2 separate regions of the Homo sapiens genome follow, and region 2 is linked to region 1. The links come from fine-mapping of genetic effects on gene expression. A gene starts in region 1. The other region holds a variant in brackets. All regions are shown on one strand. Distances are from middle to middle.

Region 1 (5,363 bases):
ATAGTAGGTGCTCAGTAGGGATTTGCTGAATGAATAAATGAATTTGCAGATTTAGAGAGGGGGTAAATGTGTGGCAATAATTCATCTTTGAGGAGAACTAGGAGGGTTCATGGATTTGAGTAGGTGAGATTTGAACTGGATCTTGAAGTGGTTCTGGAAGCTGAGGTGGATGATGGGCAATCATCTATCAGCTTGACCAAAGGCATGGAAGTGAGAGAGACTGGCAGCGGGGTAGGAGTTAGGGAGAAGTGTGATCAGTGATAGTTGGAGAGGTTATTGTAAGGCAATGTGAGGCCAGATTGAGCAAAGTTTTAAATGCAGGCTAAAGGCTTTTCCTACAGCCAGGACCAGCTACATAATTTGTGGGGCACAGTGCAAAATGGAAATGCATGGCCCCCTTGGTCAAAAATTTCAAGATAATGGGCCGGGCGTGGTGGCTCACGCCTGTAATCCCAGCACTTTGGGAGGCCGAGGCAGGTGGATCACTTGAGGTTGGGAGTTCTAGACCAAACTGGCCAACATGGTGAAACCCTGTCTTTACTAAAAACACAAAAAATTAGCCGGGTGTGGTGGTGGGCACCTATAATCCCAGCTATTCAGGAGGCTGAGGCATGAGAATCACTTGAACCTGGGAGGTGGAGGTTGCAGTGAGCTGAGATCGCACCACTGCACTCCAGCCTGGGAGATAGAGCGAGATTCAGTCTTAAAAAAAAAAATTTCAAGATGGTGACAGCAGAGCATTAATCCAAGCTCAGGGTCCACCTGAGCACAGGGCTCTGTGTGACTGCATGGGGTCGTGGGCCCAAGAAGCCAGCCCTGCCTATAACCAGTGAGGGAGCTGGTGATAGCTTTCTAGCAGAGCAGAGATGTTATTGGAGCTGGACTTTGGGAAGATTATTCTGACATGTCTGGTGCAGTAGGTTGGAGGGAGTCTAGGCGGGGAGACAAGCTCAGCAGCCTTGTGCAAAGCTAGCAAGGAAGAGAAAGGATAGGTAGGGTAGGGGTTGGGGATGAAGGTCAAAGGGCAGGGGTGAGGCAGGGGTTAGAGCTAGAGTGAGAAGCTTGGAGAAGATGGAGTCTATTTAGACGAGAGTGTGGACCAGGGAGAGACTGCTGGAACACCAACCACCAACTGCTTCCTCTCTCTTTTCCCTGCTTTCCAGACCCTGGCATTAGAGGTGATACCAGGCACAGGAATCAGCAACGTGTCTCCCTTTGGCCACCAGAGGGCAGATGATTCTCAAGGATCGAATTTGGGTTGGGGAGTGAGGTGTTCTCTGTCCTCCTCTTCTCTCTTTCCCTCACCTTCATGGGTGTGCCTTCACCTTCTTCCTCAACGGTTGGGTGCCTGAATAGAGCTGGTATGGGGCATGGGGAGCAGTGCTGAAGTCCCAGGATTTACTAAGAGTGTAGTGATACCTGTTGCCTTAGGAAGTACTTTCATACCCTGGTAATTACATCTGCTCAGATGCCTATTTCTCTGATTGATGGGATGAAGGCTGGCTCAAGATGCTGTAGCTGGGAGTTGGAGGTCAAGTAGCAGGGGTCCAATCAGCAGTTTTCCCAATAACTCCTGGAGCCTCTCTGCTCCTGTACCTTTGGGAACCTGTTGCCTGAGTCTGGTTTCTGACTCCTGCGGGGCCTCTGCCTCCTGCCCACCTTAAGCCACTGATGGGAGGGTGTGGTTCCAACGTGTTCCAGGTACTATGGGTGAGGACAGCTTGGCGCTGGGGAAATCAGCCCAGGATACTCCCTGTCCTTGGTAACGCAGTGTAAGGGGAAGTGAGGAATGGACTGCAGTTGCCATACAGACTTCCTGTTAGTCAAGGGCTCTCCAAAGCTGAGAAGGACCTCCGAGTTCATGAATCCAATGGCTTCACTTTACTGATGGGGAAAATGAGGCCCAGAGGAGGAAAGAAAAGAAACTTTAAATGCCTTATCTTGCAGAGGCATTTTAAAAGGTAACTGGAATTCAGAAATGTCATTTTGAATGTCAACGCAGGAGCAAAGGCAAAGGAAAGAGGAGCCTAAACTCAGTGATGTTATGTGATTTTTCCAAGATCACGCAGCATTGGCACTTGGCAGAGCTGGGGCTGAAATGCAGGGCCCTGGACGCTCCCGCATCCGGTGCAGAGGACGCTGCCCTGGGCCTGCCTGGGGCCTTGCCGAGCCCTGCGGACTAGATGCGGGAATGCACGGATGAATCCACAGAAGCCAAGATAGACGGTGGCAGACAGGCAATAGACTGATGCTGCATTTGACAGGTATATTGATAGGCTAGATGATAAAAAGAAGATGAATTTTATGAGCTGACCGACAGATGGACAGAAATGCAGACAGGAAGCTGCTATAGAACCAGAGGATGCCAATCACAGGGACGGCTAACAATCTTGTTTTGTATTTAGTCAAATCACAAGCACAGACAGGTGACCCACGCTTCCTGTTCAAGGTTTGAAAATGCCCGAAAACTGACGGAAAGACACGAAGCGAATCAGACTCCGAGAGCCACCCGGGGAAACGACCGGGTGCTCGGAGGGCCTCGGGTGTTGCCGGAAATGGCCGACGACCGCCCTCGGCAGGGCTGTGGGAGGGGGCGTGGCCGGCTCAGCACGCGGAGCAGCTTCGGGTATTTCCGGAAACTGCCGAAAGCCCCCTTGAAGTGGGCGGGGAAAGGCCGGTGGGCGTGGCTGGATGGCCGTGGACGGGGGCGGGGGGTAGGCACCCGGGGTCGCTTCGTGGATTTCCGTAAACAGAGCCGAAGCTTCGTCTTCGGAATCGAGGAGGAGAGCGCGTCCCCGGGGTTTACCTTCTTCGGCTGTTTCCGGAATTCACCCGTAGTCTGTGGCCGGGAGGAGAAGGCGCGCCCCACCTCCCGTTTCTAGCCGCTTCGGATGTTTCCGGCTGCTGCCGGCGAAAAGAGCCGAGGGCCGGCGGTGGTGGCGGCCATGTTGGGAGCAGCAGGTCCGGCGGCGGCTGCCTGTGTGCCGGGCGCGGAGCAGTGCCGCTGAGGGCAGGGGAGGAGCGAGGCAGGCGGCCGGCTGCGGCGGCAGAGAGTAGGCGGAGCGGCGCGGCCCGGCCGAAAGGCGGCACAGCCCAGCCGGGGGTCGGGGGGGTGCGGTCCGGAGCCGCTCGGAGCCGGCGCGGCCTAGCCCGAGCGGCGCATCCCCGGGCTGGCGTGAGCGGCTGCCCGGCCTCCCCGCACCCCCGGCCGGGGCCCATGCGGCGGGTGCTCCTGCTGTGAGAAGCCCCGCCCGGCCGGGCTCCGCGCCTTCCCTTCCCTCCCTTCCTCCAAGCTTCTCGGTTCCCTCCCCCGAGATACCGGCGCCATGTCCAGCGCTCGGACCCCCCTACCCACGCTGAACGAGAGGGACACGGAGCAGGTAAGGAGCCCCGAGGGCTCCCCGAATTCTCTGGCTGGGCCCTTTGCACCTTGCGGAGCCTCCTCCCTCTTCTGCTCTCCTCGTGCCCCTGCTGCCATCCTGCAAGCCTCGGCTGCCCTGTCATCCGGCTCCTGGCTCCGGCTCCGCACATCCCGCTTCCGAGTCCTGACCTGGGACCCACCTCGTCCTGACTCCAAGCTGCACACTTGTCTTTCTGCCAACCCCCGTCTCCCCTCACCGCCCTCCTGCGCTCTTCCGTGTCACCTCCCCAGCTTCCCTTTCTCTTCCCTTTTTCTCTCAGGGGCCTTTCTGGTCTTCCTCCACCCACGCTTAAAGCAGCCACCCTCCCGCTCCTCGAATAGCAGCACCCCGCGATTTGCCACAGATCGTTGTCCACCTCTCCCTTCGTCTCTCCTGCCTCGCTTCCCCTCCGCCCGCACCGGTTCTGCCAGTCTCTGGGTTATCACCCTCAGGGTCCTTGCCCTGGACTGCGCTCTCGATCCCTGGCCCCTTGCAGTTCCCCCAGCTTTTTCTACCCTGCTTCTTCGTTTTCCAAATTGTGCTCTCCCTCTTGCTTGCAACCCACCAGCTCCACCCTCATCACCTTTCCAAATCCTTCGCCTACTCTTTGCTCATCACTTTCCCTTCTTTGCTCCAGGAGCTCCCTGGATCCTGGCGCTGGCATTTGTCGCTTCCGTGTTTCCCCACAGCTGTCATGCGCATAGTTTTCCCACAGGTTGCGTTTGGGGTTCCAATCATCACTCCCTTCAGAGTCTTTGGATCCCTCTTGTTCTCTTCCCCTCGGGTTTGGCTTTTAGGTCCCTGGGCCTCTTGTTTCTCTCTGTGAGTGTTCTACCAGCCTTCTACTGGGCTCTTTCTCCCAACCCAAAGACACTTGGCCCCACCGTATTAACACAACCTGTTGCTCAGTCCTTTCCCAGACCTCGCTGCATCACAGTTTTTGCCTTTCTGTCTTCGTACGCTGGAACACAAACCATGATGACTTTCTGTGTCTTCACTCCCGTGCCTGGCACTTAGAGTATTTTCTTTCTTGCTTGTTGCCTTCCTGTTTCTCCACCCTCACCCCATCTTCCTTACTGTGCCTTTTAATCAGCGTTGCCTTTCATCTCCGCATTAGTCTCCTGCCTTCTTCATGTCCTGTGTATCCCCACACCGTGCTTGGATCCATTCTGTTCCTATTGGCTAAGTCTCTGTAATGCCCAGGAAGTCCAGGTGTTTTGCATGCTAGTTTCTTGAGCTACACCTCAGCCTCACGACTCTACACGGTCCCCCTCATCCTGGCAGTCACTGCTATGTTTTTCACCCAAGTCTTAGCCTTTCTGTGTCATCTCACTTTTGATCCCAGAGACGTCCACTTTCCACACCTCCCCTTTCTTTCACCATCTCTAGCGTCCTTTGCTGACTGCTCTGTGCAGAGTCCCCTGCCTGTCATACCTTTCTTGGTGGAGAACTTTACTAGGCCAAAAAAACTTGACTTGAAAAAGAAGTGCTTCTGCCCCGGGGCTGCTGTGCTTTTTGCCTTCTTTCCCCTCCTTCCATCCTTTATGTTTCCCTCTTACTCCCTTCTTTCTTTGTAGCCCGGTAGAGCAGTTGTTGTATTCTCTTGCATGTGAACATTCTTCTTTGAAAAATCTTACCTCCTTTCTTTTACTGTGTTTTTCTATTTTGTTACCCCCTGGCCCTCTGTCACCTGGGCAGTTAGGAACTAAAGAGAAGTTCTAGGCAGAGTTTTTCTCTGCAGGGTTGACCCTTTTATTACTTGTGGATTATTTGCTTCTGGGGGTGAAATAGGGGTTGAGAGGGAGGGATGGTTGATTTCCATTTCATCACTGGGTTTGGCAGCTGGTTCTGCATGGGACAGGGGTCTTTGGAGACAGAGGAGCATGTTCTGTGTCTCGCAGTCTTTCTCTCCCTTGCCTACCGGCTGTTTCTCTCTCCTTACTGGGAATTGCTTTCTCTGGG
Region 2 (5,363 bases), 48 kb after region 1:
GTCACCACACCCCGGCTAATTTTTGTGTTTTTTTGTAGAGCCTGTGTTTTGCCATGTTGCCCAGGCTGGCCTCGAGTTCCTAGGCTCAAGGGATCTGCCTGTCTTGGCCTCCCAAAGTGCTGGAATCAGAGGTGTAAGCCACCACGCCCGGCCAGATTTTCTCATTTAATCTTCACTCTAATTCTGTGAAATGGGTACAGCTAGTATCTTTATGTCCCAAATGAGGAAACAGATTTGGAGAAGTTATGTCACTTTGCTCATGTTCAGTCAGCTGGTAAGCAACAGAGGTGGGCAGAGCGACTATAGTAAGTTTTCTGTATAGTTTACCTCTTTTAAGTTTCTGGAAGGCAGGAGCCAGATCGCACTGAGCTTTGCAACTGGAGCCAGGGCTCCAGAGTACTGCTCAACAAAGGTTTGCTAGGGCAACAGTAGCTGGGGATTTAGCGACCAGACCCCAGCAAGCAGATTCTCAGGGATGAAAGTAGTCCTGGAAGCCTCTAAAGCCCTGGTTGCTCAGTAGAATCTAGTTTCAAGAGGAGCCCAGCATTTCAAGTGGCTCTGAAGACAGAGGAGATTTGGAGAGTGCTCTTTGCATTGTGGCTTCCAGGCCTGAAGGAGAGTGAGCTGGAGGTTGCTCTCTGTTCTCACCTCTTATGCCATGTCAGGTTTTTCCCAGGCAGGCTTGAGTCCTGGGGGAGCCCCGCCTCATGGCCCAGGCTGCAGTGCTGATCTCCCTGCCTTGTGGTGAGGATTGCAGCTCAGAGAGCTAAAGGGCAGTAAACCACCTTGGTTTTGGCTTTGTGCTTAAGTTGCAGGCTCTTCTGGTTATCCTTTGTGAAGGAGGCTCTTACCCTGGCTGGAAAGAGGGAGCAGCCCCTGCCTCCCATCTACAATGGGACAGTAAAGGAATATGGCTGTTTCTCAAGTGGAACAGTCACAGTTAATTTTGGGGGTGGGAGCATCCAGGCTTTCCACTGGTGAGTGCCTGCCAGTTTTACAAGCTCTCCTACACTGAATGCTCCTCTGGTTTATTGACTCTTGGCAGTTGATAGCGATAGTTGCTCATGGCAGTTGATAGCGATAGTTGCTCAGAATCAAAGGATGAAAAGACAGTTTCTGGATACAGTGAGGGAGGAAGGGTTAAAAAACAAAGGACTCCAACTCCCAGTTACAAGATGTCCCATATGGCCATGCGCAGTGGCTCACTCCTGTGATCCCAGCACTTTAGGAGGCCGAGGTGAGAGGATTGCTTGAGCCCAGGGAGTTCGAGACCAGCCTGGGCAACATGGAGAAATCCTGTCTGTACAAAAAATACAAAAATTAGCCGGGCTTGGTGGCCCATGCCTGTAGCCCCAGGTATTCAAGAGGAAGATCACTTGAGCCCAGGAGGCGAAGATTGCAGTGAGCCAAGATCGTACCACTGCACTCCAGCCCGGGCAACAGAGCAAGACCCTGTTTAAAAATAAATAAATAAATAGGGACTTGCCACAGGCACATGACCTTTCTTAAGAGACAAAGTCTTGTGCTGGGAATGGTAGCTCATGTCTATAATCCCAGCACTTTGGGAGGCCAAGGTGGGCAGTTCACTTGAATTGTTGAGTTCAGTACCAGCCTGGACAAGCTTGCAAAACCCTATCTCTACAAAAAATACAAAAATTAGCCGGGCGTATTGCTGTGGGCCTATAGTTGCAGCTATTCGGGAGGCTGAGGTGGGAGGATGGATTGAGCCCAGGAGGCAGAGGTTGTAGTGAGCCAAGATCGTGCTGCTGCACTCTAGCCTGGGTGATAGAGTCATACCTTGTCTTGAAAAAAAAAGAGAGGCTGGGCGTAGTGGCCCATGTCTGTAATCCCAGCACTTTGGGAGGCTGGGGCGGGTGGATTACTTGAGGCCAGGTGTTCAAGACTAGCCTGGCCAAGGTGGTGAAACCCCATCTTACTAAAAATACAAAAATGATCTGGACGTGGTGGCACGCACCTGTAATCCCAGCTATTTGGGAGGCTCAGGCAGGAGAATCACTGGAACACAGGAAGCGGAGGTTGCAGTGAGCCGAGATCGCACCACTGCACTCCAGCCTGGGTGACAGAGCAAGACTCCATCTCAAAAAAAAAAAGAGGCCGGGTGCAGTGGCTCAGACCTGTAATCCCAGCACTT[T/G]GGGAGGCCAAGGTGAGCAGATCACAAGGCCAGGAGATCGAGACCATCCTGGCCAACATGGTGAAACCTCGTCTCTACTAAAAATATAAAAAAATTAGCTGAGTGTGGTGGCGGGCGCCTGTAATCCCAGCTACTCGGGAGGCTGAGGCAGGAGAGTTACTTGAACCCGGGAAGCAGAGGTTGCGGTGAGCCGAGATTGCGCCACTGCACTCCAACCTGGGCAACAGAGTGAGACTCTATCTCAAAAAAAAAAAAAAAGAGACGAGAGTCTAATTCTGTCACCCAAGCTGGAGTGCAGTGGCACGATCATAGCTCACTGTTACCTCCACCTCCTGGACTGAAACGATTATCCTGCCTTAGCCTCCCGAGTAGCTGAGACTACAGACCCATGGCACCATGCCTGGCTAATTTTTGAATTTGGAGAGAGAGGGTCTCACTCTGTTGCCCAGGCTTGTCTCGAATTCCCAGGCGCAAGTCGTCTTCCCACCTTGGCCTCCCAAAGTGCTGGGATTAAGGCATGAGCAACAGTGCTCAGCCCCGTGTGGCTTTTTTTTTTTGAGACAGAGTCTCACTCTGTTGCCCAGGCTGGAGTGCAGTGGTGCAATCTCTGCTCACTGCAACCTCCACCTCCCAGGCTCAAGCAGTTCTCATGCCTCAGCCTCCGAGTAGCTGGGATTACAGGTGTACGCCACCACGCTCAGCAAATTTTTGTATTTTTAGTGGAGATGGGGTTTCGCCATGTTGCTTAGGCTGGTCTCGAACTCCTGACCTCAAGTGATCCACCAGCCTCGGCCTCTCAAAGTGCTGGGATTACATGGTGGGGGCCACCATGCTTGGCCCCCATGTGGCTTTTAATCTAAATCCTACCCTATCTCTTCCCAGCTTTTCTGTTTGTAGTCAGTGCTTTGTATTTCCTCAGTTTACAAAATCCCTTACTGTCTCCCACAAATAGGATTGAGGAAACAGTCCTTCTGTCACATTGCAAAGCCCTAGAAAAATGAAGGGACTAGAAAAATGAAGCTGTTTGATCCTGCTCTGGTTCTCAGTCTACCAGTGAGTGAAGGGCCGGAGGGCCCGGGCAAGCTTGAGCCCAGGATCCAGTGGGCCCACTGAAGTCAGGGCCCACTTTTGGGGGGCTGGGAAAAGGAAGGGTTGCTGTGGGACCACTGGGATAGGCCTTTAAACAGCACTTCACCATTGGCCTGAATCAAACATTGTCATTCCCAGTGTCCCGAGCACCTTCCCTGAGTCTTCATACCTTCTGCCTCCTAGCTTATGGAGGAGGAGCCAGGGGCTTATCTTTTGGGGGAAATGAGAGCACGATTAGGCATCAAGAAGGGTTGATGAGAAACTGGTAAGGGGGACTGTCAAGAACAGCAGAGTGCTGAAATGGTGACAAAAGCTCTGGGCTCCGGCCCCAGCTCTGTACTGAGAAGCTGTGAGATTTTGGGCAAGTCTCATAACCTCTGAATGCCAATTTCTCAATGGAAAACAGGGAGACTACCTACCCTATAGGTCTGTGTTTGGAGAAAACAAAGTGTAAGCGCTGGACATACAGTAGCATCAGAAATGCTGAATCCGTTGGCCAGGGCTCATGTGTAAGGCAAACATTTCTTGGCCACTCCTGAGTAGCATGGTCTTGCAGGAATATATGCTTAAGTGCTGTGAGAGCACAGAGGAAGCTTTGCCCTTCCCTAGAGGGTTAATGGCTACCAACGTGAGAAGGTCACGGAGTTCCTTAATGAGAGGGAGCCTAGCCTAGAATAGGGGATGAATGAGAAATTGTTCTGAGAACCAGAGGCAAGGCTGCAACCAGCACATAGACAGGGGTCGTTGGTCTAGAAGGGGAGTCTTCTCCAGATGAGAGACAGCCAGCTTGCCCTGTGCTCACCATGTGCCCAGATAGTGGGGGCTTAGCAGGAGGAAGGTGTGAGGAATCCCAGGCCTTTGGAATTCCTTGAGAAAGCAGTGTTGTTTTGAAGGTAAGGCAGGGGATTGGTGACTGGAAACTTGGAGGTGAGTGAGAACCTAGGGATGAACGTTCAGAAGCAGGGCTGGAAGGAACTTAAAAGGGACATTTGGATTGTTTCTAGCTTTTGGGCAAAATCTAGGATTAAATATGATTTTTTCATTGATAGAATGCTCTATCAGTGATAAAGGCTCTTAATCTAGAAAACATACACCTCATAGGGGGCTTTACAGAGTCCCCAAACTCCCTGAAATTATGCTCAAAATATTTTGTGTCTAAGTGGAATGTGCATGTTTCCAAGGTTAAGCACTGCTTTTTTAGGAAGTAGGAGGTCCGTCCGCCACTGTCAGCTTGCTGGTTTCTGCTTACCCTCCTCCCCACTTCGTTCTTGAGGGGGTGGTTTGCTGGTCTTTGGCAGGGCCGCCACTCTGGGTCAGCACATCTGAGTCACACATGTTCCTCCCCAGCCCTATTGGAGGCTTTGTTAAAGTCATCTGCCCCTACCCAGGTCCCACCTGCCACAGGTGAGCTAGGGTTTTATGACAGCCGTGGCTGCAGTGAGTCTCCTCGACCTCTCGCCAGCTGTTACCCAGCAAAGCACCTTGGGGAGGGTGGGGCTGCCCACTTCCGGGGAGGGGGGGAGGGGGAGGGGAGAAGGAAGTTGATCTAAACCCGCCTCTTTCTCTGTCTCCCTTCCTGCCCTATTCCCCTCCTGCCCCTTCCCTCCCACCTTGCTTCTGGTGTGCTGTCCTGGAATTGCACGCGCTTCCTGACCACCAGGCTCTGGCCCTTGAGAAGCCAGCGGGGCTTTGTCCCTGTTGCTCTCCTTGCCAAACCCAGTCTCTCTGCTAGTGGTGGTTTCGGTTGCGACACCGTCCAGGTTCCCAGGCAGGAACCGCTCGGCCTGGCTGCTTAGCTACTTTTCACTGAGGAGGTGGTGGAAGGTGTCGCCTGCTCTGGCTGAGTAAGGGTGGCTGGCTGAGCCGGCAGCCCCCGCCCTAGGCCTGGCTCTTCCCGGCCTCTGTACTTTGCCCTCGCTGCCTGACAGGTTCTGCTGTGGGCTCTGCTGAATGGAAGTCGCTGGTAGTCCTTTTCCCTTTCTCCAGTCGGGTATGTTGTCCCCCTTTTTACTCTAGGATTGCCTCCTCCTCTTTCTTTCCTCTCATCTCAAACATAGGATCTTTAGAGAGTTGCTAAGGGGCGCCCTGCCTGAGTCCAGCATAGTAATATTCATGGGAAGGG

The links. PIP is the estimated chance that this variant, and not a neighbour inherited with it, causes the effect. A credible set is the group of variants that fine-mapping cannot tell apart.
Region 2: its variant is the best candidate, but not a certain one, in a credible set for the expression of MARK2 in whole blood (TOPMed, PIP 0.67).

The regions. Positions count from the first base shown.
Region 1 is chr11:63,836,181-63,841,543 of GRCh38, forward strand. MARK2 (microtubule affinity regulating kinase 2) reads left to right here and starts at 2,930. Exons shown (of 19, transcript NM_001039469.3): 1 at 2,930-3,380. The coding sequence starts at 3,327. RefSeq lists enhancers at 1,616-2,604, 2,865-3,014 and a silencer at 3,025-3,264.
Region 2 is chr11:63,883,734-63,889,096 of GRCh38, forward strand. The region is part of intron 1 of MARK2 (microtubule affinity regulating kinase 2); the gene reads left to right. Among named protein-coding and RNA genes, the nearest start is that of RCOR2, 31 kb to the right of the region's middle. RefSeq lists an enhancer at 4,784-4,893. The variant T/G (reference allele first, on the strand shown) is at 2,153.